Linked DNA regions of Homo sapiens. The protein of the gene in region 2 purifies or fractionates together with the protein of the main gene of each other region. This does not show direct contact. Each region holds a gene or a part of one and is shown on either strand. Other genes may lie near its edges.

Region 1 (5,473 bases), on a different chromosome or scaffold from region 2:
GCTGTGCAACATGTTTGTCTTTTGAGTTATGTTATTACAACAGTCAAAAAGTTAAAAAAATCAAAAAGTTCATAAAGTAAAAAAGTTACAGTAAGCTAATTTATTATTTGTATTTATTTATTTATTTTTTTTTTCTGAGACAGAGTCTCACTCTGTCACCCAGGCTGGAGTGCAGTGGTGCAATCTTGGCTCACCACAACCTCTGCCTACAGGTTCAAGCAATTCTTGTGCCTCAGCCTCCTGAGTAACTGGAATTACAGGCATGCACCACCACGCCTGGCTAATTTTTTTATTTTGTAGAGACAGTGTTTCACTATGTTGGCCAAACCAGTCTGAGACTCCTGGCCTCAAGTAATCCGCCCACCTTGGACTCCCGAAGTGCTGGGATTAAGCCATGAGCCACCATGCCTGGCTGATTTATTATTGAAGAAACAAAAATTTTAAAGATAAATTTAGTGTAGCCTAAGTGTACAGTGTTTCTACAGTCTATGGTAGAGTAGTGTCCTAGGCTTTCACATTCACTCACCACTCACTCACTGACTCATCCAGAGCAACTTCCGGTCCTGCAAGCTCCAGTCATGGTTAAGTGTTCCATACAGGTGTACTTTTTTTTTTTTTTTTTTTTTTTTTGAGATGAGTTTCACTCTTGTTGCTCAGGCTGGAGTGCGATGGCATGACAATGGTGCGATTTTGGCTCACCGCAACCTCTGCTGCCTGAGTTCAAGCAATTCTCCTGCCTCAGCCTCCTGAGTAGCTGGGATTATAGGCACCTGCCACCAGGCCTGGCTAATTTTGTATTTTTAGTAAAGACGGGGTTTCTCCACGTTGGTCAGGCTGATCTCGAACTCCTGACCTCAGGTGATCTGCCTGCCTTGGCCTCCTAAAGTGCTGGGATTATAGGTGTGAGCCACTGCGCTCAGCCAATTTTTGTATTTTCAGTAGAGACCGGGTTTTAACATGTTGGCCAGGCTGGTCACAAACTCCTAACCTCAAGTGATCCACCCACCTTGGCCTCCCAAAGTGCTGGGATTACAGGCGTGAGCCACTGTGCCTGGGCTAAAAATCTTTTATACTCTGTTTTTACTTTTTCGATGTTTAGATACACAAATACTTACCACTGTGTTACAATTCCCTACAGTGTTTAGTACAGTAACATACTGTACAGCTTTGTAGCGTAGGTGTGGAGAAGGCTAGACCATCTAGGTTTGTATAAGTATACTTTATGATGTTCGCACAACAAAATCACTTAACATTGCACTTACCATAACTTATCCCTGCCATTAAGTGATAAATGTACTTTTAGCATTCCTTGTCTTTACATTCTAAGCACATACTTTGATTTTAAAACTGGATAAATGTATTACATATTTCCGTCAAAAGAGAAAAAACAAGTAACATGACTTTTTATTTATATGACTGTGAACTGATCTTTTTTCGTGTTCCTCAACTCCCCTCAAAAGTTCTTCCATTCTTTTCCCATTGTTTGAAATTTCTGAAAATAACCTAGAAAAGACTGATGCTATAGTTTTTTTTTTTTTTTTTGGAAACAGACTCTCTGTCACCCAGGCTGCAGTGCAGTGATTATTTTTATATATTTTAAATAAAATGGACCTTTAAAAAAGATTTATGATCCTTTTGAAGATAATTCATGACATACTAAAATGTTTTAAAACCTAGGCTGAAAATAATGACATCTGTTCCCAATACTTTCCTATTAAAAATGTGCTGGACATCTGGAATGCTGATAATTCAATAAATAATGCCTACCAGGTTCATTACGCATAGTTCATTTGCCTTCGTAGTAACATTTAACTCCTGAGATTGGTCTGTAAGTTGTATTTTCCCCAATATTTGGTAATAATGACAACAATGTAGAATAACTAAAAACAAAAAACAAGCATGCAGCTTTTTTTCATTTTTTTTTAAATTTTTAATTAATTCTTTTTTTTTTTTTTTTTTTTTTAAGACAGTCTCGCTCTGTCACCAAGGCTAGAGCACAGTGGTACGATCTCGGCTTACTGCAACCTCCACCTCCTGGGTTCAAGTGATTCTCCTGCCTCAGCCTCCCGAGTAGCTGGGATTACAGGAATGTGCCACCATGCCTGGCTAATTTTCATATTTTTAGTAGAGACAAGGTTTCACCATGTTGGCCAGGCTGGTCTCAAACTCCTGACCTCAAGTGATCTGCCCGCCTCAGCCTCCCAAAGTGCTGGGATTACAGGTGTGAGCTACCGTGCCGAGCCTAATTCTTTTCTGTAAGTAGCTTTTGAGACAGGGTCCTTGCTGTGTTGCCCAGGTTGGAGTAGTGGCATGATTACAGCTCACTGCAGCCTCAACCTCCTGGGCTCAAGCAATCCTCCCACCTCAGCCTCCTGCGTAGCTGGAATCACAGGTGTGCGCCACTATACCTGGCTAATTTTTCTATTTTTTGTAGAGATGGGGTCTCGCTACGTTGCCCAGGACTAACATGCTTCTTCATCACAGGCACTCAGCAGCACAAAGACTCTCGTCCTGAATCATTTCCCTTCCCCTAAATGAAACCTTGCTTCTTACCTCGTGACTGTAAGAGGCGGGGTTTCCGAGACGAATGTTTGAAGTGGGACTGGGTGGCCTCGTGATGAAGGTCAAAGCTCGAGGACTCCTGAACTGGATCCAGAGGCACCATCCCCCTTGCGAGCATCTCAGGTCCATGAACTTGACCTGGGACCTGAAGACAGACAGGTTGGGCTTGTGGGTAAATCACTTTGTAAATGGGAATTAAAATATTTAAAAACAGACCATGAGTATGCCAGTGGATGCAGGAAGAAAGCCAGAACATTTTTAAGACAGAGTAACCACCTAATAACCTAAAGCCTGCCAATACTTCTCCTGGCTCCAGTTTCAACGTCTGTGCCCTGCTCACACATAATAGGTTTCACCTCTTTTTACCTGTTGTCCTGATAAATCAAGCTCCAAGTCTTCTAGAAGGGTCACGGCCTCCTCTCCACTATCGGGGCGGTATTCCTGCAGCCAGACCTGGAGCTCCTTGGGCAGGATGGAAAGAAACTGCTCTAGCACCAGAAGCTCCAGGATCTGTTCCTTGGTGTTTATTTCTGGCCGCAGCCACTGATGACAAAGTTCCTTCAGCCGACTGAGAGCCTCTCGGGGCCCAAAAGTGTTCTGGTAACAGAAGCGCCTGAAGCGTTGGCGGAATATCTCTGGGTCTGGAGGAGGCGTGTCCTGTAGGGTGGAATCCTGCCCCCACATGTGGTCTTCCTCATCTTCCTCTTCCACCTTCACTATTACGATACCATCCTTCTCCTGTGCAGCCTGTGGGGACAGACCCGTGGCTTCCCGTGATTCAGCAGTCATCATTCAGGCTCCAGGAACTGACTTGATCCAAACAGGGTCTGTGCTCACCTTTATGTCCTGGGAGGTTTTATGATGTGTTTCTTTACTATTCCTGAAGTATAAAAAAAAAGTCATTAGTACGTACCTTTACAAAAAGTGATCTGTGCTGCTAACACTTTATAGGAGGCAGCACATCGAGGCACTATCAGAACGCTCCTGAGGCCGGGGGTGGTGGCTCACGCCTGTAATCTCAGCACTTTGGGAGGCCGAGGCAGGCCAATCGCCTGCGGTCAGGAGTTCAAGACCAGCCTGGCCAACATGGTGAAACCCCGTCTCTACTAAAAATACAAAAGTCAGCAGGGCATGGTGGCAGGCGCCTGTAATCCCAGCTACTCGGAAAGCTGAGGCAGGAGAAACGCTTGAACCCAGGAGGTGGAGGTTGTAGTGAGCCGAGATTACGCCACTGCACTTCCTACCTGGGAGACAAGAAGTTAAACTCCGTCAAAAAAAAAAAAATCCTGACAAATCGAGGAAAAAACTGTACAATCTCCACTGTCACTTCATATATCAAGATTTGCAAACAGAAACCTCAAACAGGCCGACTCCACCCTCAGGGTGTTTGCTTGGAGTCAGAGTGATTTACCTGCAGGTTGACAGCAGGTTACGAAATGGAGCATTAACAGTGCCCAGCCCAGAGAGCTGAATGTTAGCAGAGTGCCAGGTGCCAGGCTTAAAGCAGTACACGCACCATCTTCTTTTGTCCCTACAACAGCCCTAGCAGGTCGGCCAAACTGTTAAGTGCTGTTTTACAAATGACATAACTGAGGGTTAGGTTTGCTCAGTAGTAGGTGGCTGCCTACTGGAGTCAATATTCAACCAAATTTGAAGCCCTGGGACCTACTTTTGTACCATCCAGCTACTTTTGCTATTTTTATGAGTGACTTGGGCAGTTAAATTGTGGTTTCCAAAGTACAAGATGATCCGCAAAGGATACAGAAAGAAAATAATTGGAATGTCTGTATCTTAAAAGAGAGAGAAATTAAGCTATAAATTGACACTAATACACTTACTTAGTCTGTGCTGACCTGTCACAGGTGTTGTTCATTTTAGACATTGTGATGTAGACTGGTTTATCTGAGACCAGTTATGTGAAATAATGGATTTCTAAATCTAGCTTTGGCTGGGCGCAGTGGCTCATGCCTATAATCCCAAAACTTTGGGAGGCCAAGGCGTGCGGATCACGAGGTCAGGAGATCGGGACCATCCTGGTCAACATGGTGAAACCCTGTCTCTACTAAAAATAGAAAAATTAGCTGGGCGCGGTGGCGGGCACCTGTAGTCCCAGCTACTTGGGAGGCTGAGGAAGGAGAATCACTTGAACCCAGGAGGCGGAGGTTGCAGTGAGCCGAGATCGCGCCACTGCACTCCATCCTGGCCACAGAGCGAGACTCTGTCATAAAAGAGACAAGCAGCTTTAAAGATTCTTGTGGCCAGATATGGTAGCTCATGCCTATAATTCCAGCCCTTTGGGAGGATGAGGCAGGAGGATGCTTGAAGCCAGAAGTTTGAGACCAGCCTGGGCAACATAGCAAGACCCTGTCCCTATGAAAAAGAAAAAAATTAGCTGGGCATGGGGACTGTGTCTGCAGTCACAGCTACTCAGGAGGCTAAGGTGGGAGGATTGCATGAAACCAGAAGTTTGAGGCTGCAGTCAGCTACGATCACGCCACTGCATTCCAGCCTGGGTGACAGAGCAAAGCCCTATCAGGAAAAGGAAAAAAAAAAAAAAAAAGATTCTTATAGAGAAACTGCAATTACAGGACACACTAATAATATAAACAGATGTGAACAAGAAGAAAATGGCACAGATGAAGCTTCTATCTAGAGTAAGGTTTTAGCCACATTAGGAGGTAAAAACCAATGTCAGTCTAAATCAAAGAAAAAGTCACCAATGAGTAATCAGCTTCTTTAAAGAAAGTGTGAAGAAAGGGCAATTACAGGAACAGCTGTATGAAATGGTTCCATTGTTATGTAATTTAACTGCCAAAAATGATGTCAAGTATCCAGGAAAAACCCATCTATGTTCACATTTTAGAAACTTGGGGCTGGGTGAGGTGGCTCATGCCTGTAATACCAGCACTTT
Region 2 (5,473 bases):
AAGCAGTTGTGATGCTCTTTCTCACACTGTAAAATCTACGTCTTAGTTCTTGAATGTTTAACAAACATAACATTTGGGGGAAAAGGCTGGGTCTCCAAAAAGGGTACCCTAAAGGCCATCATGTCTCATTTAGGACTCTTGCCCTCTCTCTCTGCAGGGCCTGTTCCCCACGGATCAGCTCATCTCCAGGAAAAAAACCCCAGAGACAAGGCTGTAGTGCCTGTGTTTAACCCAGTCAGGTCCCAGGTAAGTAGGATGCCCAAGCTTGTAGGAATATCAGTAGTGGTCTTTCTCCCTCATTCCATGTTCCTTGCCCTTCTCTTGGCTCACACTCATCATCGTGAGAGCCATTCAGGTGGCATAGTCCCTCTGCCTTCACCTTGTCACAGAATATCACAAAGTGTGTTGCATCATTCGAGGAGCTTGTATTGATTATATGCCATTGCCTCATTTCATTGTTCAGGAGGCACGTCCAAATCTCAAGGCATGGGAGTGAGGGGTGGAGTGAGGCTCCTGGTTTCAGAAAGTGCTCCACTCATTTGATGTTGAGTAACTGATATTTTCTCCTTTGAAGTCTCTGGTTTATCTCCCCAGCTTTAGAATAAGGGCCCTTTCTCACACTACTTTATATTCAGCATGTATGCAATTAATGCTTGGTGATAATAATGGAAATTCTATATATCTAAGGTAATACTTAACATCTTCTTCACAAAATGGACTCTGGTTTTTTTTCTTATTAGTGGTTCATTCATTTTCCTAGTCATTTATTTACAAAAAAAAAATAACTCTCTCATTTAAGTCCTCTTGCATACTGCTGCCACATCAGTTTCCTCAAGACACTTGCTCAGTCCTCTTCTATGGCTTCTAATTAATTTTTAATTCTATCAGACCCAGTGCCTCCTGTTATTAACAAATACTTCCTGATAAGAAGTATCTAGAAAATAAAACCTACTCATGCACATTCTGAAAATCAACATAATTCCCTTAAATGTAATTTAATGGTATAATGTAGAAACAAAAAAGTTATTTATTTTAAAAGTAGTGTTTCAAAATGCAAGTGCTTGATGTGATTATAACTAGGGAAATAACAACGTAGTCAGGTGTTTGCACTGAAATATAATTAGTAAGTTCAAATTAAGGAGGAATAAGAAGACCAGAAGCCCAAGAAAATCAAAGAGCAATGGTATAGGTGGACAGTGAAATGAAACTAGTATTGAGTCAGATAATACAAGACTAGACAGAGAAAGTGGGGCCCTTAATTGAAGTAAGGCTTAGATGTTGTAAATTGAATTATGTCCCTCCAAAAGATATATGAAAATCCTAACCCCACGTACCTGTGAATGTGACCTGATTTGGAAACAGGCTCTGTCTTAGTCCATTTTGTGTTGCTAATAACAGAATTCCTGAGACTGGGTAATTTATTTTAAAAAGAGGTTTATTTAGCTCAAAGTTCTACAACCTGGGAAGTCCAAGATCATCAGCCTATCTGGTTAGGATCTCATGCTGCTTTAGCTCATGGCAGAAAGTGGAATGATGGATAATCAAGTGTGTGCAAGGAGACCACACATTAGAGGCAGCCATCCTTTAAACAGTCTGCTCTTGGAGCTGAGCAAGAGCAAGAATAGAAAGCTTATTCAAAGAAATAACAATAGGCCGGGTGCAGTGGCTCTCAACTGTAATCCCAGAACTTTGGGAGGCCATGGCAGGAGGATTGCTTGAGGCCAGGAGTTTGAGACCAGCCTGAGCAACACAGCAAGACCCTGTATCTATTTAAAAAAAAAGAATAGGCCAGGCGTGGTGGCTCATGCCTGTAATCCCACACTTTGGGAGGCTGAGGTGGGTGGATCACGAGGTCAGGAGTTCGAGACCAGCCTGGCCTACCTGGCAAAACCCCGTCTCTACTAAAAATACAAAAAAAAGGAGCCAGGTGTGGCAGGCACCTGCAATGCCAGCTACTCGGGAGGCTGAGGCAGGAGAATCGCTTGAACCTGGGAGATGGAGGTTGCAGTGAGCCGAGATCATGCCATTACACTCCAGCCTGGGCAACAAGAGCAAGACTCCATCTCAAAAAAATTAAAATAAAATAAATTAAAAATAAATTTTAAAAATAGAGAAATAATAACAAAAATCTTCACAAAACTTGTGAAAGATATAAATGTCCAGGTACAGGAAGATCTGAGAACACTGAACAGAATCATCCCAAATAAGACTACTCCAAGGCATATAATAATCAAACTCTCAACTGTCCAGGAAAAAGAGAGGATCTGAAAAGCAGCAAGAGACAAGAAACAAATAAGGAGCTCCAACTTGTCTGGCAATAGACTTCTCAATGGCAATCATACAGGCCAGGAGAAAGTGGAATGACATTTTCAAAGTACTCCAAGAAAAAAACTGACATTCAAGAATATTGTATCCAGCAGAATTATCTTTCATATATGAAGGAGAAAGTCTTTCCCAAACAAACAAGCTGAGAGAGTACACCACCACCAGACACATCTTACAAGAAATGCTAAAGAATTCTTCAGTCTAAAAGGAAAGAAGACTAATGTGCATAAAGAAAACTTTTGAAGGCATAAAAGTCACTGATAAAATTAAGTACATGGACAAACCCAGAATACTTTATTACTGTAATAGTGACATACAGTATACTCACAACTGTGAAGCCCCAAGACATACCTATCAAAAACAATAATAGGACTGGACACAGTGGCTCATGCCTGTAAACCCAGTTCTTTGGGAGGCTGAAGTGGGAGGATCACTTGAGACAAGGAGTTTGAGACCAGCCCAGGCAACATGGTAAGATCCTGATGCTATACCTGGAGACATGAGACAGAGTGAGACCATATCTTTAAAACAAAACAAGACAAACAATAATGGCTAGCAACCTGTTAAGAGATAGGTAATATAAAGATATAAATTGAGACAACGAAAAGTCAAAATCTAGAGGAATGGAATTAAAGCATATAATTTTTTTCTGTGTGTTTCTGCCTTTGTTTCTACTCTTGTATTTGGGATCTAAGATAAGTTGTTATCTCTTTAAAATAACTTATTATATCTGAAGGTCTTCTTTGTAAGCCTCATGATAACTACAATGCAAAAACCTATAATAAATTCACTAAAAATAGCAACAAAGGAAGGCATACTATAAGAGAAAATCACTTAGCCACAGAGGTTTTTTGTTGTTGTTGTTTGAGATAGGGTCTCACTCTTTCACTCTGGCTGGAGTGCAGTGGTATCATCTCAGCTCACTGCAACCTCTGCCTCCCGAGTTCAAGTGATCCTTCCACCTCAGCCTCCCAAGTAGCTGGGACCACAGGTGTGTGCCACCATGCCTGGGTAATTTTTTGTATTTTTTGTAGACCTGGGTTTTTGCCATGTTGCCCAGGCTGGCTTGAACTTCTGGCCTCAAGCAGTCTGCCCACCTTGACCTCCCAAAGTTCTGGGATTACAGGCGTGAGACACCATGCCCGGCTGTATATAACAATTATAAATACCTATGCATGCAACACCAGAGCTCCCAGGTATATAAGGAAAACATTAATAGATCTAAAAGGAGAGTTAGACTGCAATACAATAATAGTAGGAGATTTTAACACCCCACTCTCAGTAATTGACACATCATCCAGACAGAAAGTCAACAGAGAAACGATGGAATTAAACTACATGCTAGATCTAATAAGCCTAACTGATATTTACTGAACATGTAACCCAACTGCTACAGAATGCACATTCTTTTCATCAGCACGTGGGACATAAGAATAGACCATATCTTAGGCCACAAACAAATCTGAACAAATTTTTAAAAAATATAAATCATATCAAGTATCTTTTCTAATCACAGTGGAATAAAACTAGAAAGCAATAACAAGAAAAACCTTGGAAACTACACAAACGCGTGGAAATTAAATAGCATGCTTCTGAACAACTAATTTGTCAGGGAAGAAATTAAGAAGGAAATGTAAAAATGTCTTGAAACTAATGAAAATAGAAAATGTGACATATCAAAATTTGTGGGATACTGCAAAAGCAGTACTAAGAAGGAAATTTATAGCAATAAACACCTATATCAGAAAAGTAAAAAGACATCAAATGCACAACCTAATGATACACCTCAAGGAACTAGAAAAGCAAGAACAAACCAAACTGAAATTAGTAGAAGGAAACAAATAAAGATTAGAACAGAAATAACTGAAATTGAGACCAAAAAAAAAAAAAAAAAACCCAGAAGAACAATGAAACAAGAAGTTGGATTTTTTTTAAAAGATAAACAAAATCAAGTCTTTAGCTGGACAAACAAAAAAGGAGAAGACCCAAATGAATAAAATCAGAAATGAAAAAGACATAACAGCTGAGACCTCAGAAATACAAAGAAACCATTAGAGACTTATGAACAACTATGACAATAAATTTGAAAACCTGGAAGAAATGGATAAATTCCTAGATGCATGCCAACTACCAAGATTGGACCATGAAAAAATAGAAAACCTCAGCAAACCAATAACAAGTAACGAGATAGAATCTGTAATAAAAAGTCTTCCATCAAAGAAAAGCCCAGGACCTGTTGGCTTCCCTGCTGAATTCTACCAAACATTTAAAAAGAACTAATACCAATCCTATTCAAATTCTTCAAAAAAAAAAAAAAAAATTGAAGAGGAGGGACTACTTCCAAATTCATTCTAGGAGGCCAGCATTGCCCTGATACCAAAACTAGACTAGGATACAAAATAAAAAGAAAACTACAGACCAACATCACTGATGAGCATAGGTGCAAAAATTCTCAATGAAACACTAGCAAACTGAATTCAACAACACATTAAAAAGATCATTCACCATGATCAAGTGGGATTCACTCCAGGGATGCAAGGATGGTTCAACATATGCAAATCAATAAATGTGATATATCACATTAATATAATCAAGAACAAACACCATATGATTATTTCAATAGATGCTGAAAAGCATTTGATAAAATTCATTGCTTTTTGATAAAAACCCTTGTCAAAATTGGTATAAAAGGAACATACCTCAAAATAAGGGCCATATATGACAAACCTACAGCTAACATCAAACTGAAGGCCTTTTCTCTAAGGACTGGAACAAGATAAGAATGCCCATCTCACCACTGTTGTTCAACATAATACCCGAAGTCCTGGCCAGAGCAATTATGCAAGAGAAGGAAATAAATGGCATCCAAACCGGATAGCAAAAAGTCAGGTTAGTCTGTTCGCAGATGATATAATCTTATACCTCGAAAAACCTGAAGACTACACCAAAAAAACTGTTAGTGCTGATAAACAAACTAAGTAAAGTTGCAGGATAAAAAATCAACACTCAAAAATTAGTAGCATTTATATACTTCAATAGTGAACAATCTGAGATAGAAATCAAGAAAATGATCGCATTTACAAAAGCTACAAAAAATATAAAATACTTAGGGAATTTAAATACTAAAAATTTAAACACCAAATTAAGT
Region 3 (6,143 bases), on a different chromosome or scaffold from region 2:
GCCGAAACCTCAGCCGAAAAGTCTCTGGACTAGGGTCCTCCCTTCCTCTGCCCCATGGCAACTCTTTCTCCAGTTTCACCACAGGAATACCCAACTGCTGCTGAGGAGCTTCCGCCATCTCTGGATGCTCTTTAAGCATCTTCAGACTCCCTCCGAGGAGACTGAGAATGACTGCATCAATGACCCTTTTGAGAACAAGAGACACATGAAAGGTCAGCCCATCCCAGTTCTGTCTCTACATCAAGGAATATTCCACTGGAGAACACAGTAATTACCTTTTACAAGGCATTTTCAAAAGACTGAACACAGATCCCAAAAGTCAGGTCAATTCAACATAGTAATCATTTGCTAAGCAACTATTAGGTACAGAGACTAAACAGAAAATGTCTAAGATTTTGCTTTTATACCCACAAATAACTTAGGATCTCACTGGAGAATAACACTACAATCAGAGAATAATATATAATGGGTTATAACTGGGTGAGTCACCAGGGCCTACTCTTCCAATACTAAAGGAAACATACATGCAACACACAAACACACACATATACACACACAAGAGGCAGGCAGAAACAACAAATAAAATAGAAAACAAGACACACTGGGAGCTTACCCTCCTGAAACTCATATGCTGGTACAGCAGACAGAAAAAGTCAAATGGAAGCAACTCTTTTAAAAACTGCAAGTGGAGACAAGTTCTAGAAAGAAAATAAGTAGGGTGCTCTGTTAACAGGGGGCAACTGACTTGAAGAAGGCTTTTCTAAAGACATGATACCAGGCTGACTCAAGGATGAGAATGAGTCAGTCATTCTAAGAGCATTCCAGGCAAAAGCCCTGAGGCTAAGAAATTACTCTGGGTGTCCAAGAACAAGCCATATCCCAGTGTGGCTTCAGCAGTGACGAGCAGAGCTGCACCAGAAGAGGTGGCAGAGGCAGACAGAAACCAGATCACCCAGAGCCTGCGCCACAGAAAGAATTATGAACTTTATTCTTATTTCTTACTTTAGCGAGGAACTACATGTTTTATAAAAGTCATTCTGCCTGTGTGTTGACAGGGAATAGGCTAGAGGTGGCAAGAGGGAAATGGCACTTACAGTGATTCAAGCAGATGATAAGGGCTTAGATCAGGGTGGTGGCAAAGAGTCAGACAAAATCAAGACGTATTTTGGAGATTAAAACCAACAAACTTGCTGATGGCTTAGATGTGATGGTGCGCTCAACCTGAAAAAGACAATGGAGCAACATATATACCATTATGACAAATGACCTAAAGATTTCTAACTTGTACAGGCTTTACTCTTTAGAAAGCATGTGAACACATATTTCATCTAATACTTAAAACACTTCTGTAGGATGAGTGCTACTCCTCCTACTTCTCAGAAGAAAAAAAAGAGACTAGATGATAACTGCCTCCCAAAATACATGGTACAGATTGAAAAAAAAATGTGAAGTCAAAAAGAGAGAAAACTAATCTAAGTCCAAGTACTCAAGGAAAAGAAGAGGCTTGAAGTAGACTGGAGAATGAGTCCTATTTACCTCCAAGTGGATTATGCGGAAGACCTAGACTGGGAAGACAGACTTGGAAGTCCAAAGCACCAGGGGAAGGAGATCCTGCTTGTCAGAAAACGGAAAGATCACCTGACTGGAGCAGAGAATGGGCAGCTGGCAGGAGGCACACCCCAAAGCTTCTGCTAAATATTCTATTGTGAGTTTGTGTATTTATCTACCCCCACTTAAACCAAGTTTATATTTTCAGTCTATTCATTGACTCTGCAACATTGAGATTTCTCTTTCATTCCTTTCTAGCTATTGCATTGGTTCACTCCACTAGTGCATTTAATGCACTACAGTGCAAATGTTTACCCATGTGTCTCCCTCTAACAGATTCCCTGGAGGCAAGAAAGATCCTCATTCATCTTTTATCTCTGCCATTTGACAAATAGAAATTGCCCCATTGCTATTCTTTATCTCCCCCCACCCATTGTGACTCTTTTGTTTTGTTTCTGAGACAGGATCTCAGGGTTTTATCACCCCAGCTGGAGACCAGTGGTGCGATCACTGCAGCCTTTGCCTCCTAGGATCAAGCGATCCTCCCACCTCAGCCTCCCGAGTAGCTGGGACTACTGGCGAGTGCCACCATGACCAGCTAATTATTTATTTTTGTAGAGACAGGGTCTCCCCATGTTGCCCAGGCTGGAGTGCAGCGGCATGAATGTAAGTCAGTGCAACCTTGAACTCCTGGGCTCAGGCGATCCTCCTGCCTCAGCCTCCCGAGTAGCTGGGACCTCAGGCGCGTGCCACCACGCCCGGCTACTTTTCAATTTTTGTAGAGACAGGGTCTCGCTATGTTGACCAGGCTGGCTCATCACTATTCTTTAAATAAGTGTCCTATGTGATTACTTTCACTTTGCACAGAGTTCTGCTTTGGTTCAAGATCTCTTCGGGTTCGTGGCCAGCCCTGCACTAAGCCAAGCCTGGCAGAGCGGGATCAGCCTCGCTCCTACCTGAGCCTACAGCGCGGCGGCCCCTCAGCGTCCAGACCCGCAGGGCCTCGGGGCCGCTGAAGGCAGCTCCTGAGAGACTTGCCGCCCTCAGCCGGGGCTGAGCGGAGGGAGACGGGCTCTACTGCAACCCCGCTGCCGCCGAGCCCCGTAGCGGCACCAAAACCCGTCCCCGCGCCCGTTTACCACTTCGCCCGCCACCCGCTGCGGCCCTGAAGAGGCTCTCACCCGCCGCGGCCCTGAAGGGCCTCTCACCCGCTAGGGTCGCCAGTGCTATCCGCGGTCCGGAAGTGAGCTGCGGACGCTGTTAGACAGGTGCGTAAGGAAAGACTCGCTTCCGTGTCCTCTCTAGGATGCTCGGAGGTCTCGGCGGATGCGTCTCGATGGTTGCTGATCCCAGCCTGCTGTTCCGAACCCGGCGAGGCGAAGACCACCAGGGCTTCCCCAGGATTGACTGCCCAGCTCGAGGCGCTCTGTGGCTAGGCCCCTTCCACTTCCGTGCCATTTCACCTGCTTGCCCTCCGTGGAAAGGACTCGGTGCATCGCCAGATACACTACTGGACACAGCACCTGCCCCAAGGGGCTTTAGAGTCCAGTCGGTCAATGCGCGACTATTCCGGCTGCGAGGGCCTTGCGCGAGGCGTAGGGGCAGAGGAGATAGGGGGCGCACTGGATCTAACCGGCTCACTTAAGAGGCTCCTGACCCCGGGTAGTGTGCGTGCGTGTGTGTATGTGTAGTCAGGGAAGGCTTCCTGGAGGAGCCAGCATCGGAGCTGTTTTTTGTGGGGGGTTTTTGTTTGTTTGTTTGTTTGTGTTTTTTGAGAAAGAGAGAGAGAAGTCTTGTTCTGTCTCCCAGGATGGAGTGCAGTGGTGAGATCATAGCTCACTGCAACCTCGAAGCCCTGAGTTCAAGCAATCCTCCCACCTCAGTCTCCTGGGTAGCTGGGACTTTTTTTCAATTTTTTGCAGAGAGGGGGATCTCTCTATGTTGCCCAATCTGGTCTCCAACTTCTGGACTCAAGCGATCTTCCCCCCTTGGCCTCCCAAAGTGCTAGGACTGCAGGCGCAAGCCACCGCGTCCAGCCTGAAGGCAGTCTGTCTCAACTGGGTGGCCCAGTGTTACTCCAGAATCCACTCAGGAAACAGGAAACCCTCTTGTCTTACTCTTCTCCAGCACTTTGCAAAGTGTCTGGTACAATATTTGCTAAAAATATACACTTATAGAGTAAATGAACTCCTAGAATATAACATAGGTGTTAGACCATCTCACTTTATCCTCCATGTCTCTGTCCCACTTTCATATTTTTCTTGTCTGCCCATATTTGACTTGGGTTTATGTCTTCACCTTTTTATTAATAATCCACTTTTCAGCTGTTTCTAATGTGCTACAAAATCCACAGTTGTTGTTTTTTTGTTTTGTTTTGTTTTGTTTTTTAAGAGACGAGGTCTTGCTGTGTCACCTAGGCTGGAGTACAGCGGTGCTATCATAGCTCACTACAGCTTCCAACTCCTGGGTTCAAGCAATCCACCTCAGCTTCCCAAATAGCTGGGACTACAGGCATGAGCCACCACACCCAGCTAATCTTTAAAAAATGTTTTGTAAGGACAGGGTCTCACTATGTTGCCCAGGCTAGTCTTAAACTCCTGGGCTCGAGCAATCCTCCCCACTTGGCCACCCATATTTTTGTTTTAATTAATATATTTTTTCCATTTCTAGAATTTCTATTTGATTTTTTCCAAATATTCTAGATCGATCTTTTAAAAGAATTTACCGATATGTTTAAGCTTTTCTTTGTACATAGTAAATATAGTTGAGCCTGATAATTCTGAGATCTGAAGTCCCCTCAGATATCTTTCTGTGATCTGCTATTTCCACTGTTTTTGATGGTGCCACTTCCACCAGCAGTACCTAACAGCATCCATTTCCCATATCTCATCATCTCTGCCATTATCCAGCTTTAATTTTTGCCAATTGACAGGTGAAGTAAATGTTACCTCATTTTTTAATTTGCATGTTCTTCATTATAAGTGAGGTCAGTCATTATTCCTACTTTCATTAACTTCTTGCCTTCCCTTTTCTGTGAACGGACTTTTCTTTGTGTTTCTATTAAGCTGTTTATCTCTTTCTTATTGATTTATGAGTTCTGGGGACATTATATAATGTCCCTAGAGCATTAAATAATGTCCCCAGGACATTAATTGGGGGCATTCCTCAAACATACCTTCCTCGAACATACCACAGTACCTTGTTTCCTTGTGTGACAGGCTGCTCATTTTCCTTGGAAACATTTTTGTGAAATTTCTTTGAGTTCCAGGATAAAGTGAATTTATCTAGAGAGGGTTGATATTGTTTTTCTTCCATGTAAATTTTTTTCTTGTCAGCATCACCAGTCCAAGGTCATTGTAAACCAAATTTATAATTTGAGGATTTTTGAACCATGCTATAATAGTAATATGAATTTGGGCTGCAAATATTGAGGGGTGATTTGTGGTTGCAACTTCTCAACCACAAATCTTTGTGGTTTTGTGGTTGTCCAGCGTGGCACTAAGACAAATTGCCTTGCTGGCTCCTGGTGGTAGGGGTACGGGAGAGGAGACTTATCTCTCACCCTTACATTGATAACCCAGCCCTTGTCTATGGCCATACCACCCTGAATGTACCGGATCTCTTCTGATAATCCACACTTTTGCAGTCCTTGGTTTATGGGGGGAAAGCTCTCTTATCAGATGCTCTTCCTTGAGTAAACTTTAGGCATAGTTTTAAAAAATCAAATCTCTGCAAGATGATTTCTCTAGGTATTATTCTTTACTTTGATGTTATCTTATAATTCATTACTATTTTGTTACCTGATATCTTTAGATTTTATTATTTATTTTATCATTTCTGTTGTTTTTGGCAGACGAATCAGCCCAACTATTTAGTCTGCCATGTTATCAGATGTAGGATGTCTCCAGGCTTCTTTATTTATATGTTTTTATTTCTTCCAAATAGGACACTTAAAATTACATTTTTACTGCCTGTATAATATTCTGTCCTCTGAATACACTATACTTTTAAAAATTATTTCAACATGGGGGAAATAATCTAGAATATACTCTTTTATTTTTGCTATTATAAATAACCTGGAACAAGCATTCCTTTGTATAAATACTTAACCTCACCCCTGGTTATTTCCTTAGAATAAATTCCTAAAATTCAACTTCTGGGCCACCAGGTATGAATATTTTTAAACCTATTAATGCATATGCTATTATAAAATGCTTTCCAGAAAGTTCATGCCAATTTACATTCCCATCAAATGTATATGAGAGTGCTCAACTCACCAAAATTGGCTAAGACTGGTTTCTAATCTTTGTGGATTTGATTTTCATTTAATTTTTTTTATTTGACCACTTTTATAGGGCTTTAGTAAAAATTCTTCCCAAGTTCTGGCAATAAATCCATCATCAATCCTAGCTTTCACTGGTGGCATGAATTTCCATTCTTTGTGTGTTTGTTTGAGACAGAGTCTTGCTCTGTCACCAGGCTAGAGTGCAGTGGCGCTATCTCTGCTCACTGCCACCTCTGCCTCCTGGGTTCAAGCGATTCTCCTGCCTCAGCCTCCCAAGTAGCTGGGACTACAGGTGTGCGCCACCATGCCC
Region 4 (5,473 bases), on a different chromosome or scaffold from region 2:
TTAAAGTCTAATTAAAATAATCTATGAAAATAACAATGTGTGTGTGTTAACCTTAGAGATTTCAGTGATATTATATCCTAACTGGGCTGTCATTTTATGCGGAGGAGTAATGTTTTTAGCTTTGTTTCAGTTTTTAAAGAAATGTCAACAGGAGGATTATTTTATTTTCTCTTAACCATCTGCCAAATCTGTTAACTATACAGGTGTGAGGTTAACAATACATTGATAAAGTTTGTGTGATATTGAGGACACATAACCTGACAAAATTTTAAAAACAACCAAACATTTAAGTCTTTTGCCTGTGATCTGTGTCTGTTTGTATACATACACACTGGCATTTTTTATTGTAGGCTTGTTTTTGTGGTTTGTTCTTTGTATTATATTTGCTAATATTATTTTTCCTATTTTTCCTTTGATGAGTCAGTTATTAGAGCATTGAAAAGAGGTTCTACTGAGGAAAGGCCTCTCTGTCACTTCTCTTCTTTGTCAGCTTTTCACTTTATGGTATATTTTGCTCTATGGTGGGGAGATGGTTCTGGGCTCATGTTGACGCCAGAGAGAAACAGAATGTGCTGAAAGTAAGAGTGGCTAAGGAAAGCTGTGTTGCCCAGATGGAAGCAGTCATCACAGATACCAAAATCTCATTTACATGAGAGATTTGTTGTAGATATACCCCTCTGCCCTTAAGAAAGACATTTCCTTGCTTATATTTCCAGATAAATAATGTTGAAAATTAATTTGCCCTAGGGATAATTATCTTATTAAATTATTTTCATTATGAGTGATAACTTTGAAGGAACCAAAATGAATGATAGTAATGAGTGATGCCTATTTACGTGAAAGGGAAATCTAGGGTTTGGGTATTAGAGCTTTTCTGTTCATGGATCTGCTAGCTGTGTGGTATTTTTAAGAATAATGACTAAGAAGTGGATTGAGATGAATCATAATAGAACAACCTTCTATTTTCCCAAGTTTCCATCTGGCAGGAATTTTATCAGTATTTTGGGGGTGGGGGTGGGATACATTTTTGAGGAGAGAAGAGTAACTGGTTTGGCCATATTCCAGTTATAACATTGTTTCTTAGAGTAGCTTCTAACTTACTGACTTTGATCATTTTCTTTTAGTCAGCCTTCTAGTGGATTAAGTAAAGGTGGTTTGCAAATTATCTGTTTGTAGATCATTGATACATTTAGATAAGAATCCTATTTGTATCTATTTGAACATTAAAAGCATAATTTACTCTTATTCTAGAACAGGTATTTGTGCTATCAAGATGTGATTGCCATGAAAGTAGTCATGTTTTAATTTTTTTTAATTGGCTTAATAGGTCACTTTAGACAACTGTGTTGAAGTTGGACGGATTGCCAACACCTACAATCTAACCGAAGTGGATAAATACGTTAACAGTTTCGTCTTGAAGAATTTTCCTGCATTGCTGAGCACAGGGGAGTTCTTGAAACTCCCTTTTGAGCGTCTTGCCTTCGTGCTTTCCAGTAATAGCCTTAAGCACTGTACTGAACTTGAGCTCTTTAAGGCTACCTGTCGTTGGCTTCGCCTGGAAGAGCCTCGGATGGACTTTGCTGCAAAATTAATGAAGAACATACGATTTCCACTGATGACACCACAGGAGCTCATTAATTACGTGCAAACGGTGGATTTCATGAGAACTGACAATACTTGTGTGAATTTGCTTTTGGAAGCCAGCAATTACCAAATGATGCCATATATGCAGCCAGTTATGCAGTCAGACAGGACTGCCATTAGGTCTGACACCACTCACTTGGTTACACTAGGAGGAGTGCTGAGGCAGCAGCTGGTTGTCAGTAAGGAATTGCGCATGTATGATGAAAAGGCCCATGAGTGGAAATCGTTAGCCCCCATGGATGCCCCAAGGTACCAGCATGGCATCGCCGTCATTGGAAATTTTCTCTATGTGGTTGGCGGACAGAGTAATTATGATACAAAAGGAAAAACGGCAGTTGATACAGTCTTCAGATTTGATCCTCGATACAATAAATGGATGCAAGTTGCATCTTTAAATGAAAAGCGCACCTTCTTCCACCTAAGTGCCCTCAAAGGATATCTGTATGCAGTTGGTGGGCGAAATGCAGCAGGTGAACTGCGTAAGTGCATTTATATTAAGCATAGAGACAAATTTCTTCACTCAGAAATTCTTATCAAATCATAAAATAAGCAGTCCTGTAAAATCAGATAAAAATGTAGTTAGGGTTTTATTTTAAAACTATTTTTCTGAGAAAATATTGAAGACCATCTTTATGCCTTATCTGGGCATATATCGTTGGCAAGGGAACAAATTGTACGTTACAAATACATCAGTATATTGTAGCATATTTCACCTGTGCAGTATATATGGTCTTCATCTTGAAGGTTCATCTAAAGAGTATACTTAGCTCATTTAAATTATAATAAGGTCTTGGATAGAAGTTTGGCATGTTTTCTCATTTTCTGCTTTTAAAAGGCCATATGATATTTTACTGAACAGGTTACAATCCTTCATTACAGAAAACTTTCATTGTTTCTTCTTTTACAAAATATGTTACCTATTAGTGGCCACAAAGATAATTTTCTTTATAGATTAAATGTACAAAGTTCAACATTATCCAAAGTTTGTTCACTGTGAATATTATGATCTATGACTGTTTTAAAAATAATTCTGTTGACGTAATATCAGATAGTTTTCTTTTCCATAAGCCCATCTGGTAAGCTTTATTTGATGGTCACCTTTTTGTCTTCCCAGTATAAAATTGGTCATAAATGTACTTTGATGTAGAATACTTTGGCTATGTAAATTAACCCAAAAAGGTAAAATTTTATTATTTCAGATAAAATTGGGATAGTATAATTTTTCCAAAAATAAAGGCAGGAAGTCCACATTTTATGTTGTGACATATATTTGTCATTACCATTATTGTTTGGCCTTGTTTTCAATTATTTTATTCTCTATTATAAATAGAGTCTGTCACAGGGAGGGGAACATCACACACCAGGGCCTGTCTGGGGTTGGGGGGCTAGGGGAGGGATAGCATTAGGAGAAATACCTAATGTAGGTGACAGGTTGATGGGTGCAGCAAACCACCATGGCACGTGTATACTTATGTAACAAAACAGCACGTTCTGCACATGTACCCCAGAACTTAAAGTATAATAATATAAATAAATAAGTAAATAAATAAAAAATACAAAAAAGACAGAAAGACAGAAAGGAAGAAAGAAAGAAAGAAAGCCAGATGTGGCTCATGCCTGTAGTCCTAGCTGTTAGGGAGGCTGAAGCAGGATTGCTTGAACACAATAAATAAATAAATAAATAAATAAATAAATAAATAAATAAATAAATAATGTCCTTGTAGTTGACCAATTCCAGGCTCCATAGAGCTGGGAAAGTTCAAAATATTGGCATTGGCTCTGGATAAGTTCAGAGTAATTCTCAGAATCTTTATTTTTCAATATTCTAAGAAATAAAAGATAGTTTAATGTATTTGAGACTAAGCTATTTATCAGAGAATAGAATAACTGTTCTCAGCTTTTATACTTTCCTGTTTATAAAACCCTTTCTTGTTAGTGACATGGTCTTTTTCCTGATCTTTTCTACCCAAAGTTTTTTTTTCTTTGTTGTTACAATGATATTTTTTTCTAAGACCAGATTTTCTAGATTGTTGGACTATGTCGCATGATCATGAACTGCATAGGTTTTCCAATATATTTTAATAATTGGACTTTTAAAAGCAGTTAAGGCATAAGTGTCCTTAGTGTACAATTGTTCTTTAGGCCTCCTCAGTCAACCTACACACATTATTTTCATGTTATTATACTATTTTAAATTTGCGGTATCTGGAAATATCTAGAAGGTGCAAGTAGTGACTTGGTTGTTTCTTAGAAAATCCCTGTATAAGATAATGTTTTCTTAAATATTTTCTTCACAAATAACAGGTCATTAACTTGGTCAGTCTTCTTTTCTCAAAGGAAGTAGCTCCGTTTTTCAAAGTCAGTCCTTGCTTGTTGATATTATCACCCCTGTTAATATGCGGCTACTTAGCTTTCAATATATAGTTCCTAATACTAATTAAAAGCCATATTCTTCTGGGAGTTTTTAATCTTCAGGCCAAGGAGAGTCATTACATAAAACCAAGATGCTAGAGGCTTCTTTCTTTGAACCTATCCCAACTCTCTTTCAGCTGCTCCTATGGTATACCCATCTAGGAACTAGAAATAGACCACACTGTTGGGCAAGTGGCTCATACACAGGAATCCTTGCTCCTGACCTTCAGAAACCACCCCTCCATCTCTGATTAAAAACAGTCTTCTGTGTTTCATTTTGAAAGGGAAAAGAAACAAGGAAATCATGCTTTTCTTAGGGTATTCCTAAATTCATATTTAGGCTTTAACAATAAAATTTCTAAAGCTTAACCTAAGGATAATGACTTAAAAAAATTTCCCCTCTAATGGTAAATATAGGTCCATTTTAATCTTATTTCATAAACTGCATTTAAAAAAAGGCACATGTCATTATAATACAGGCACAAACCATCTATTCCAAGAATTCTAATTCTAGTTATCATCCAATTATTTGATATTTTATTCCATTTGAAATGATCTATAGATTACAAATCTATAATGACCTCATAGATTTGTAACCTATAAGTAGCTAAACTTTTGTAGAAAATGATTGCGTCCCTTAAAATCAGCATACCCATCAAACGCATTCTGTACTAAACATTTTATTATATAATATATTGGAAGTTTAAAAAATATTTTGTGATTGACTTAGTAAGTGCATTCAAATTTAGAGTCTTGATTTCAGGAGAAAAAAGGCCAAAAAGAGTCATTAGATAAAGCCAAGAAGCAAGAGGTTTCATTTGTTTCTGATCCACTCCACCCCCTTTGAGTTCTTTCTATGTTATACTCAAATAGAAGCAAGAAGTAGATTGTCTTGTCACGTCACATCCTGTATTACGGAGGTAACCAAACTTGATGAAACCTGCCTTGATTACTATTGCTCCCAAAGAATAATATTAATGAAATTTCCTGAATTCTATCCATGATCGTGTTTCTCTTTATATAAATAAAAAATGAATTTGTGTTAGTTGGCATTTCCAGTTTTCTTGGACCCATTGTTTTTGCAGAATAGCAGATTTTGATTCTAAAGAAACTCTTGCCTATATTTCTGAATGTTCCTGCCAGAAACTGAGGTTTTAACATTTCCCCTACCCTACAAGCGCTTTTTAAAAATAGAATTCCTCCTTCAACGCACACATTAACATCTGTTATAATAAATTAACATTCCCATTGTAACTGATTAAGTTGAGACATTCATATGCCTATGTAAATAGAAGGAGGTGATGGGAATGGGTGGCAGGAAGAGGGGATTGATGGGAAAGTCATTTAACAATTTAATAGGTTGATTAGTACCAGTATATCACTTCATACACACAGTAACTATTGCCTGTATATAATT
Region 5 (4,611 bases), on a different chromosome or scaffold from region 2:
GGCCGGAATGCAGTGGTGTGATCTCAGCTCACTGAAACTTCCACCTCCCGGGTTCAAGCAATTCTCCTGCCTCAGCCTGAGTAGCTGGGATTACAGGCATGAGCCACCATGCCCGGCTAATTTTTTTGTATTTTTAATAGAGACGAGTTTTCACCATGTTGGTCAGGCTGGTCTCGAACTCCTGACTTCATGATCCGCCTGCCTCAGCCTCCCAAAGTGCTGGGATTACAGGCGTGAGCCACCGCGCCCGGCCCTTGAAAAGTTTCAGAATTACTATAAATCTGTTCTGCTGTGGAGCTTGATATCTGGGGTTCAGAGTGGGACATTGGATCCCAGTGTGGCCTGCAGGGCACAGATGGCTTAGGGGGCTGGCCCATGCAGGCGGGATCAGAGGCTTATTCAGACTGCTGCTCTGCCGAATTTTTTCATCATCCCTGATTTATTTGGGTTTTTGTTTGTTTTTGAGACAAAGTCTCGCTCTTGGAGTGCAATGGCATGATCCCGGCTTACTGCAACCTCCGCTTCATGGGTTCAAGTGATTCTTCTACCTCAGCCTCCTGAGTAGCTGGGATTACAGATGTGCGCCACCATGCCCTGCTGATTTTTGCATTTTTTAATAGAGACGGGGTTTCACCATGTTGGCCAGGCTGGTCTCGAACTCCTAACCTCAGGTGATCAGCTCGCCTCAGCCTCCCAAAATGTTGGGATTACAGGCTTGAGTCACTGCGCCTGGCCAATCATCCCTGTTTTATAGATGAGGAACCTGAGAATTCAGCTGTGTGAACCCAGGGCTTTCTGAACCTGGAGGCCAGGGAGCTTTCCCCAGCCTTGTTTCTTCCTCACCTCAGCTCTGGCCCCAGAACCGCGTGGGACTGAAGAGGTCGCCTCCTTCCCCTTGCAGGTTTTGGGCTCAAAGGCCAAAGTGAGAAGTCCCTGCTGCAGGAGATGGTGCCGGTGGTGCCAGGCCAGACAGGCAGCGACGTGACTGTGTCCTGGAGCCCCGAGGAGGCTGAGGCCTGGGAGAGCGAGAACCGGCCGAGGGCGGCCCTGGGCCCAGTGGTGGGCGCGCGACGGGGGCGGCCACCCACTCGCCGGCGCCAGTTCCGGGACCTGGCAGCCGAGAAGCCGCACAGCTGCGGGCAGTGTGGAAAGCGCTTCCGCTGGGGCTCGGACCTGGCGCGGCACCAGCGCACGCACACGGGCGAGAAGCCACACAAGTGCCCTGAGTGCGACAAGAGCTTCCGCAGCTCCTCGGACCTGGTGCGCCACCAAGGCGTGCACACGGGCGAGAAGCCCTTCTCCTGTTCCGAGTGCGGCAAGAGCTTCAGCCGCAGCGCCTACCTGGCCGACCACCAGCGCATACACACGGGCGAGAAGCCTTTCGGCTGCAGCGACTGCGGCAAGAGCTTCTCGCTGCGCTCCTACCTGCTGGACCATCGGCGTGTGCACACCGGTGAGCGGCCCTTCGGCTGCGGAGAGTGCGACAAGAGCTTCAAGCAGCGCGCGCACCTCATCGCGCATCAGAGCCTGCACGCCAAGATGGCCCAGCCCGTGGGGTGAGCAGCTGGCTTGGCCGGAAACCCGGGGGAGGCCCAGCCACGGCACATCCTGCTTTGTTCACCACTGGGACTCTCCTTCCATCTGTGGCCACCTCCCGGGCTGTCCGAGGGACCCCAGGGTACCTCACACTCGGAGCTCGCCTGCCCTGCTTGGCTCTGAGGACCTGCCCAGCGCTCAAAGGGAACGGAAGCCTTCCCCTCCCGCCCCCGATCTTGTCCTCTTTCCCCCTTCTGCGCCTAGCGTTCCTCTTCCCCTCTAGTTTCCTGGAGCCCCAACACATTCCTGGCAGGGACAGCAGGGTGGCAAGGACTCAGGTCTAGGTCCCTTCCCAGAAGCCCCCGAGCCTCATTTGACTGTGTGGCTCTTTGGCCCCCACCCTGTGGGGTGGGTCCATGGGTCAGGCCTCTGCCCTACCAACCTGTGCCTTTCAGTGGGCGTGGAGGACTGGCCTTGGCCCCCCAGGGGGCTGCTGGACTTTGGGAGAGACAGCCCACACCTGTGGGACCGCGGGTCTTAGTCACGGCGGCAGGGGCTTTCTGGCCCCCTCCCACTCCCGTTTCCAGGCCATGACCACTCTGCCCTGTCCTGGCCATACGGACTCGGCCTGCCTTTGCCCTCGGCCTACTTGCCCTAGCATGAGGCTCTGAGAGCCACCTGCCCACCAATCTGGTGAGGATAATGGTGGCTCCAGCGACAGGAGGCCAACCCTGGAGACCAAGAACAGGGCGCCTGGCTGCCATCTTTTCCTCCAGAGGTGGGGCTGCACCAGACTCAGCACTAGCACTCCATCAGCACTAGCACCTCACTCCATCAGCACTAGCACCTCACTCCATCGGCCCCGGCACCCTGCTCCATCGGCACTGGCGCCCTGCTCCATCGGCACTAATGCTCCACTCGGCGCCCCACTCCATCGGCCCCGCTCCATCGGCACTAATGCCCCACTCGGCGCCCCACTCCATCAGCACTAATGCTCCACTCCATTGGCACTAACGCCCCAACTCCAGCGGCACTAATGACCCGCTCCTTTGACATTGGTGCCCCACTCCATCAGCACTAACGCCCTGCTCCATCGGCACTGGTGTCCCACTCCATTGTCACTAACGTCCGGCTCCATCGGCACTACCACCCCGCTCCATCATCACTATGTCCAGCTCCGTCGGCACTACCACCCTGCTCCATCATCACTACGTCCAGCTCCAACGGCACTGGTGCCCCATTCCATCGGCACTAACGCCCCGCTCCACCGGCACCAGTGCCTCGCTCCATTGGCACCAACGCCCAGCTCCACCGGTACTGGCTCCCTGCTCCATCGGCACTAACGCCCTGCTTCATTGGCACTTTGCTGCTGCCTCCTGAGCACTGCCTTCCATGAACAGGGACAGACCAGAGGCCCTGCAAGGACTCCCCCTCAGACCTCCAAAGGGCAACAGAAGAGTATTAATAAACGTGAAAACTTACCTCCAGGCTGTTCTGTTCTTTCGGTAGCTGGAGGGTGGGGATACCTGGAATATATGCCCCTTGCCCTGGCCTTGTGTCCTGGTGGCACATGCTGCTGCACCGTGACCAGGCGGAGCTGCGTCCTTGGCGTCCAGGTCGGCTGGGCCCCAATGGGCAGCCGTGTCCCCTGGGACTCTTGTCCCCCTGTGTCAGCTAGTGCCTGCCCTGCTCTGGGAGCACCGTCGGTGCTCCAGCAGAACGGGGAGCTGAGCAGGACTCAGGGTCTTCACCAGGCCACTCCTCTCCCACAACTGTGAAAGGAAGAAGGGCCCATAGACGCTGCTTGGTCAGTGGTGGGACCCTCTTGCTGCGTGTTGGGGATCTGGAACTCAAGGCTGCCCCAGGCTGAGTCCCTTGGAGGAGGGGCTGACAGCGGGCTTGCCCTTCCCACCAGCCCCTGACATCCAACTTCTCCCTACCAGGAGCCCCAGGCCGGGACCCACCAAGGGCTGGTGGGTGCGTGGTCAAAACTAGTGATCATCCAGGCACGACCCCTCCTTCCACCCATGCTGGTTCCTTCTCTTTCACCTGCTAGTGGCCTCAGGGCCCCTGGCTGAGGGGAGGCGGGGGCCGGTGGACAAGACGCTCTGGTCCCTTGGTAACAGGTGTGCATGTGCCAGCCCTCTCTGCCCCTAGGCCTTTCTTAGCCAACCTTCCATGCACACATCATCCTGCGGTCACTGTCATGGTCTCCGTTTCCCGTAAGAAGCAAGCAAGGTCTCGCTGTGGACAAGGCTGATTCCAGTTGGTGATTTTTACCTCTGGGGGCCTGGTGCTGTGTGCATGCGTGTGGCGGGTGGCCGGGATGGTACAAGGACTTCTTGGTGGCGGTGGCTGGCTCCAAATGGAGACACTCGGGTGTAACGAGATCAGATAAGCACGTAGGCCAGGAGCTAAGAATAGGATTGAGCACAGGTTCCTGGCTCGGGTAGGGGCATGTCAGTGCCAGCAAAGAAGTCACCAGCAGGAGCCAGAGAATGAAGCCCAGGCTGGGAGAGCGGGGCCAGGACCCAGGGTTCCAGGGATGGGGCAGAGTCCAGCTCAGCTCATAAGCAGAGCTGATAGTACTCGTTAGGGTAGAGGGCAAGGGTTAGGACCCAGGGCACTGAGAGCCCAGGGCCAGGAGGTGAGCTCCGAGCTTGGTGCTTGGAGGAAGCCCCGTCTCGCCCTATGGCCTTCCTGGTGGCTGGGACCCTGCGGCTGGCCACGCAGATGGCAGACACTCGAGACAGCCTGGGGAGAAAGGTAGCAGGAGGCACCGCCTAGCCCAGCTGCTCCTGCCTCCCTGCTGAGCCCCAGCCCAGCCCAGCCCAGCCCAGCTCTGGCCTTGCCTCCCCAGGGGAAGTATGACGTCCAGGGTCCAAGGGCAGCCCTGATGCTCAGCAGCCCTGGGGTGGCGGCCGCTGTAGTCACTGCCCTGGAGGACGTGTTCCAGGCCCTGGGCTTTGAGAGCTGCGAGAGGAGGGAGGTCCCGGTCCAGGTGAGCCTCTGCCTCTTACATCCACCCTCAGGCCCAGCACCGACCCCTTCCCCACTCTCCCCTGACCCAGAATC
Region 6 (4,596 bases), on a different chromosome or scaffold from region 2:
AAGACAAGAACTTTATCAAGAACTTTGCGCTTCTCTTCCATAAACTTCATTGCCCTGTTCCCCAACCCCCCAACAAACTTAAAGTACTGTCATTTTCAGAATTCAGTGACTCCTGGGTCTGCAGGTGATGTAGTTTCATGCTGTTAACTCACCGGAAGGCAGTGGAACCAGATGCGTGTTTTTCCTCCTGCTCCTCCGCTCTGGCCCCAAAACAGAAACTTTGCCTTCCTTTGTTTCACCCATTTATCTACCCAGAAATCCACCCATCTAGCATTTGTTGGGTGTATACTTTGTGCAAAGATCTGTAATGGCTACTCTAGAGGAGAAAAACGATGGAGAAGACATGCTCAATGCTTTCAGGAGCTTGGAATCTGTGGAGGAGACACATGTAAAGATAATACGATAAACACAGATACAGAAGAGATTTTATAGAACTTGCATTGACTTTTCTCTTTTCCTCTTTCAAAGTGATATCATTCTTTAAAAACAGGCCTCCTGCCTCTGATGCTTTTTTTCTCCTCTATGAACTCTAGGAAGGCCAAGTTGAACCTTTAAGGAAAGAGGGTTTGTGGCAGACCAGGACAGGGAAAGACATTGGGATCAGGATGGAATCCAAATGTTGAAATTCCAAGATTTTCAACAGCAGAGGACATATGCTGGGGTTAGAATCAGGCCTGGCTCCATGCTATGCCTTAGGACCAACAGAGACATGTATAGCTCAGATGACAGCAGCAGAGGCAATGTTTACTTCTCCAGGATTCCTTTGCACAATTTACTGCCCTTTCTTCAAGAGCAGAACAACCAAGAGCATGCCAAAAGTCATGGCACATTCAGCCCTTTAAGGATTTCATCACTGGATTAGCTGATCTTAGGTAAAAATTTAGGAAAGGAGGTGGGGAAGGGTAGGGGTGATGCACAGAGTAAATGATACATTTGGTGGCAACATTTTGTTGAGCACAGTTATGGTGTTTGCACATTGCTTTTGAACAAAATGATAAATTTCAATCAGGTCTGGCAAGCGTTACAAAGTCATTCTAGGTCAAATGGATAACAGAAGCCTCTATATAGTTGAGTCCAAAATACAGACCCTAAGACAGCCTTCCTTCTCTTTTTTCTCTTTCTTCTTTCTTTCTTCTCGAAACGGAGTCTTGCTCTGTCACCCAGGCTTGAGTGCAGTGGCACCATCTAGGCTTAGTACAACCTCTGTCTCCCGGTTCAAGCAATTTTCCTGCCTCAGGCTCCTGAGTAGCTGGGATTACAGGCATGTGCCACCCACGCCCGGCTAATTTTTGTATTTTTAGTAGAGACGGGGTTTCACCATGTTGGCCAGGCTGGTCTTGAAATCCTGACCTCGTCATCCGGCCGCCTCGGCCTCCCGAAGTGCTGGGATTACAGACGTGAGCCACTGCTTCCAGCCCATCCTTCCTTATTTAACTAGGGAATCAATCAGCTTTCTTTGGGGATGGCTGGGAAAGGTTGAAGAAAGAATGTATGCTCCACCTGAGCCTTGAAGGATGAATAATTCACAAGGGCACAAAGTGGGAAAAAAAATTCTAAACAGAAGGATGGAGATGTAGAAGGGCGGGGATGGTGGGACTAAGGTTCTAGAAGCAGACAGAGTGAGAAGGCTAGAAGGATTGCCAGATTTAGAGTCCACATGAATGAATGGTGGGCTGCTAGTGGTGGCATGCTGGGAGGAAGGGAGCTGCAGGAGGGGGAGCCCAGCCACAGGACCCCCAGGGGCAGGAAGAGTCCAGGGTCTCCAGGGTTTCCTATGTCCATTGAGGGAGTGTTTCTGGGATAAGAGGCTTCTTAGGGAGAACACAGAAGAATCTGTTCAAATGGAACTTTGGTAGAAGGTACACTGGGACCCAGGGTAGCCCGGCAGCAGCTCTGATGGCTTCTCTGGTTCCCCTTCTTTGGGTGGGTCAGCCTTCTCCGGGCCCCTCCTGGCCAGCCCCAGATTACAGTTTCTGAAAAGACTCCTCTCGGGAGTCATTTCTCTTTTATTATGGTACCACTTGGACAGCACACACACAGCACAAGAAACTGCAAACCCATGCACAGAATAAATTAGGAAATTCCTGTTTAAAAGTAGATGATAGAAGAAGCTGTGCTTCCAGGAGGGCCTCATGGTTCAGTGCCTGGAGAGTCCAGGGGTGTCAGCAGCCCCCAAGATTCCATGATAAATTGATGATACATTTAGAGCCAAATGCCCCCCTCTGAGAATATTTAATAAGGCCTGAATTCCTTCATGCAAACATGTGCACACCCACAGATGTATACACAGGACTCGGGGCAGGGGACAGCCTGGACATGACAGCCAGCTCAGCAATAAGCACAGTGGACCCAGGTGTGCTCTCCCTGTGGCTCTGGTGGTGGCTGAGTTCCTCGCACTCATCCTTCACCAGCTCCCCAGCTCCCTTGGGAGGTGCCAGTGTGGCCTTTGGCAGTGAGGAAGTGGAGGCCCGTTTCCTGAGGTGAGGACCCAGGTCTATTATTCTGGACTATAGGGGAGCACATCCCAGCTTTCTTACATGAGCCTTGCTTTGTTGTCTCGTCTGCCAAGCGTCACCTGCCATTCCCAGAAGAACACATGAAGCCATGTGTCCCTGGGAAAACCCACCTACTTGAGTCCCAGGAGCTGTGTGTACATCTCTGTCCAGCAGTGTGATGTTGCGGGAAACTACCTCATTTCTCTAAGCCTCATAATCCTTGTCTGTAAAAATGAAAGTGTCTACTTCACAGGGTTATCAAAAGGAATCACAAAAATATGATATTGCCAAGTACTATGCTGGACTCAAGTGAAATATTCAAATCCTGTTTTCTTTCCTGTTTTCGTGTCCCTCGTGTCTTCCTTTTTATTTCTCCATTTGGCTTCCAGGTTTATGTGTCTGTTGGTAGTCATGTAACCCCAATGGAACCAAAAGCACTCTTGACCAACAGGTTCTCCCATACCCCAACAGAAATTGCTGGTGTGTGCCTCCCCGCAGTACAAAACTGCATCAGTGGGTGAATCGAGGATGAGCCACAGGACAAGGGGACAGTGGGGACAGTCAGGACCTCAGGTACATCCGATCCCAGGGGAGAGATCTGGGAAGCCTGCGGGCGCATGGAGATCTGTCTCAGAGAGGAGGGTAAAGTGCCATAATGGTGGAAAGACACCATCAAGAAATAGTGGTGTAGGGGTGGCTCTGAGCTGGGTCTGGCCAGAAGCTGGAATCTAGGGAGGTGCTGTTCACAACATTCAGCAGAAATAAAACCACTGCCTTCCAGGAGTGGGAGGCCCAAGGATGTAGGAGACTTATCTTCCTGGTAGGTCTGTCCACCAAAAGGCCAGTTTGATGGGTCACAGTCCACACCTCAAGTTCTACAGAAATTTCCCATGCATCTCTCCATCTGTCTGTCCATTCAGCCATCCATCTGAATATATTAAGAGTTTTACAGAATGTAGGCTGACCTGGACAGAAAATCCTATGTGTTCATTCAGCACCTTTTATCCAAGGAGTCAGTGTCTTTCATAGTCACTCAACTGGAGTCTTTTATAGTAAGGCTGCGAGGTAGTAACAGGACAGGCAATGCCTCTCTTTTTATAGATCAAGAAGTACTCAAAGTAACACAGTGAGCCTAGCTGAAACATGGTATGGGCTGGTCAAATGCAGGGCACTAATCTGTTCCCCAAAGACCAGAAATTGGCTCTTCTCCTGTGGGCCTTGGTACAGCTTCTCTTGGACTGACCTCTGTGTCTAGACCAGCTCTGTTGCTTTTCACACCAGCGTGGGTTTCAAGTCATCTTTGAAGTTCACAATAGGCTTGGAGCGGGCCCACAGCTTTTCCCAGGAAGCCAGCCCCCCAGTAGGCTCAGGGTCAGTGTCTGATGTGCCACTGTCACTAGAGTCAGAAGAGCTCTGGAAGCAGATTTCACAGTAGGGCCGGTGGCAGCGGCAGAAGAACTCATCTGAGCTGCTGGACTCAGTATCAAAATAGCTGTGTTGAGAAGACAGGGAGGCACAGCCTGAGGGCACTGGGGGCCACAGCTGCCACTGTTCAGGCAAGTCAGGTGAGGCTTTGGAGAGGCATGGGGCAGCAGGACTTGGGGCCCGGCCAGAACCAGAAGGCTGGCGAAGAAAGGCTGCTTTGCTCCCTCTAGCCCCCTCGGGCTCTGTCTGGCTTTGTTTGCTGCCCTCCAGGGTACCTGGTCTGTCTTGAGGATCTGAAGGTAGTGAAGGCTTCCTGGAAGAAGGTCTTCGTACTCTGGAATCAGTAGTTTGTGGGGCCAGGCTGGGGCTGTCCCCATTCTGCACATGTAGCCTGCTGTGTGCCCCAGGAACAGTCCTGTTTGCCCGATGCCCCACAGATGAGGGTGCAGAGCCAGGAAAGTGTGAGCGGGCCCGCTGAGCTGCCCGCCTTCTCCTCACCATGTAAGGGCTAAAGCCGAGCTCCTTGGAGAGGGGCATCTTTTGGGGGCTGAAGGCAGCACTGTTCTTCCAGGTTTGCTGATGACAAGAGGGGGCGGTGGAGAGGGAAGCCTCAGGGCCCAGGCCCAGATCTTGTAAGACCTCCTGAAGTTTCTCCCTGATTACTGAACTAACCCGT

The links.
Region 1: the proteins of PGBD1 (region 2) and ZKSCAN1 purify together in Homo sapiens (affinity purification with mass spectrometry; one large-scale study listed by BioGRID and IntAct). This does not show direct contact.
Region 3: the proteins of PGBD1 (region 2) and ZSCAN25 purify together in Homo sapiens (affinity purification with mass spectrometry; one large-scale study listed by BioGRID and IntAct). This does not show direct contact.
Region 4: the proteins of PGBD1 (region 2) and KLHL13 purify together in Homo sapiens (co-immunoprecipitation; one large-scale study listed by IntAct). This does not show direct contact.
Region 5: the proteins of PGBD1 (region 2) and ZNF213 purify together in Homo sapiens (affinity purification with mass spectrometry; 2 studies listed by BioGRID and IntAct, with this or other methods). This does not show direct contact.
Region 6: the proteins of PGBD1 (region 2) and GPR156 purify together in Homo sapiens (co-immunoprecipitation; one large-scale study listed by IntAct). This does not show direct contact.

The regions. Positions count from the first base shown.
Region 1 is NC_000007.14:100,021,388-100,026,860, reverse strand, and holds part of ZKSCAN1 (zinc finger protein with KRAB and SCAN domains 1), read right to left. Parts: intron 3,967-5,473; exon of another isoform or gene 3,807-3,966; intron 3,443-3,806; 5' UTR 3,355-3,442; coding exon 2,929-3,354; intron 2,708-2,928; coding exon 2,554-2,707; intron 1-2,553. UniProt on the Homo sapiens protein: May be involved in transcriptional regulation.
Region 2 is NC_000006.12:28,286,923-28,292,395, forward strand, and holds part of PGBD1 (piggyBac transposable element-derived protein 1), read left to right. Parts: intron 1-157; coding exon 158-246; intron 247-5,473.
Region 3 is NC_000007.14:99,613,603-99,619,745, reverse strand, and holds the start of ZSCAN25 (zinc finger and SCAN domain-containing protein 25), read right to left. Parts: upstream 2,801-6,143; 5' UTR 2,730-2,800; exon of another isoform or gene 2,505-2,729; intron 1,612-2,504; exon of another isoform or gene 1,537-1,611; intron 1,222-1,536; 5' UTR 1,095-1,221; intron 699-1,094; 5' UTR 614-698; intron 186-613; 5' UTR 140-185; coding exon 1-139. UniProt on the Homo sapiens protein: May be involved in transcriptional regulation.
Region 4 is NC_000023.11:117,905,951-117,911,423, reverse strand, and holds part of KLHL13 (kelch-like protein 13), read left to right. Parts: intron 1-1,327; coding exon 1,328-2,123; intron 2,124-5,473. UniProt on the Homo sapiens protein: Substrate-specific adapter of a BCR (BTB-CUL3-RBX1) E3 ubiquitin-protein ligase complex required for mitotic progression and cytokinesis.
Region 5 is NC_000016.10:3,139,788-3,144,398, forward strand, and holds the end of ZNF213 (zinc finger protein 213), read left to right. Parts: intron 1-848; coding exon of another isoform or gene 849-901; coding exon 902-1,560; 3' UTR 1,561-3,017; downstream 3,018-4,611. UniProt on the Homo sapiens protein: May be involved in transcriptional regulation.
Region 6 is NC_000003.12:120,163,265-120,167,860, forward strand, and holds the end of GPR156 (probable G-protein coupled receptor 156), read right to left. Parts: coding exon 3,768-4,596; 3' UTR 2,214-3,767; downstream 1-2,213. UniProt on the Homo sapiens protein: Orphan G-protein coupled receptor involved in the regulation of hair cell orientation in mechanosensory organs of the inner ear.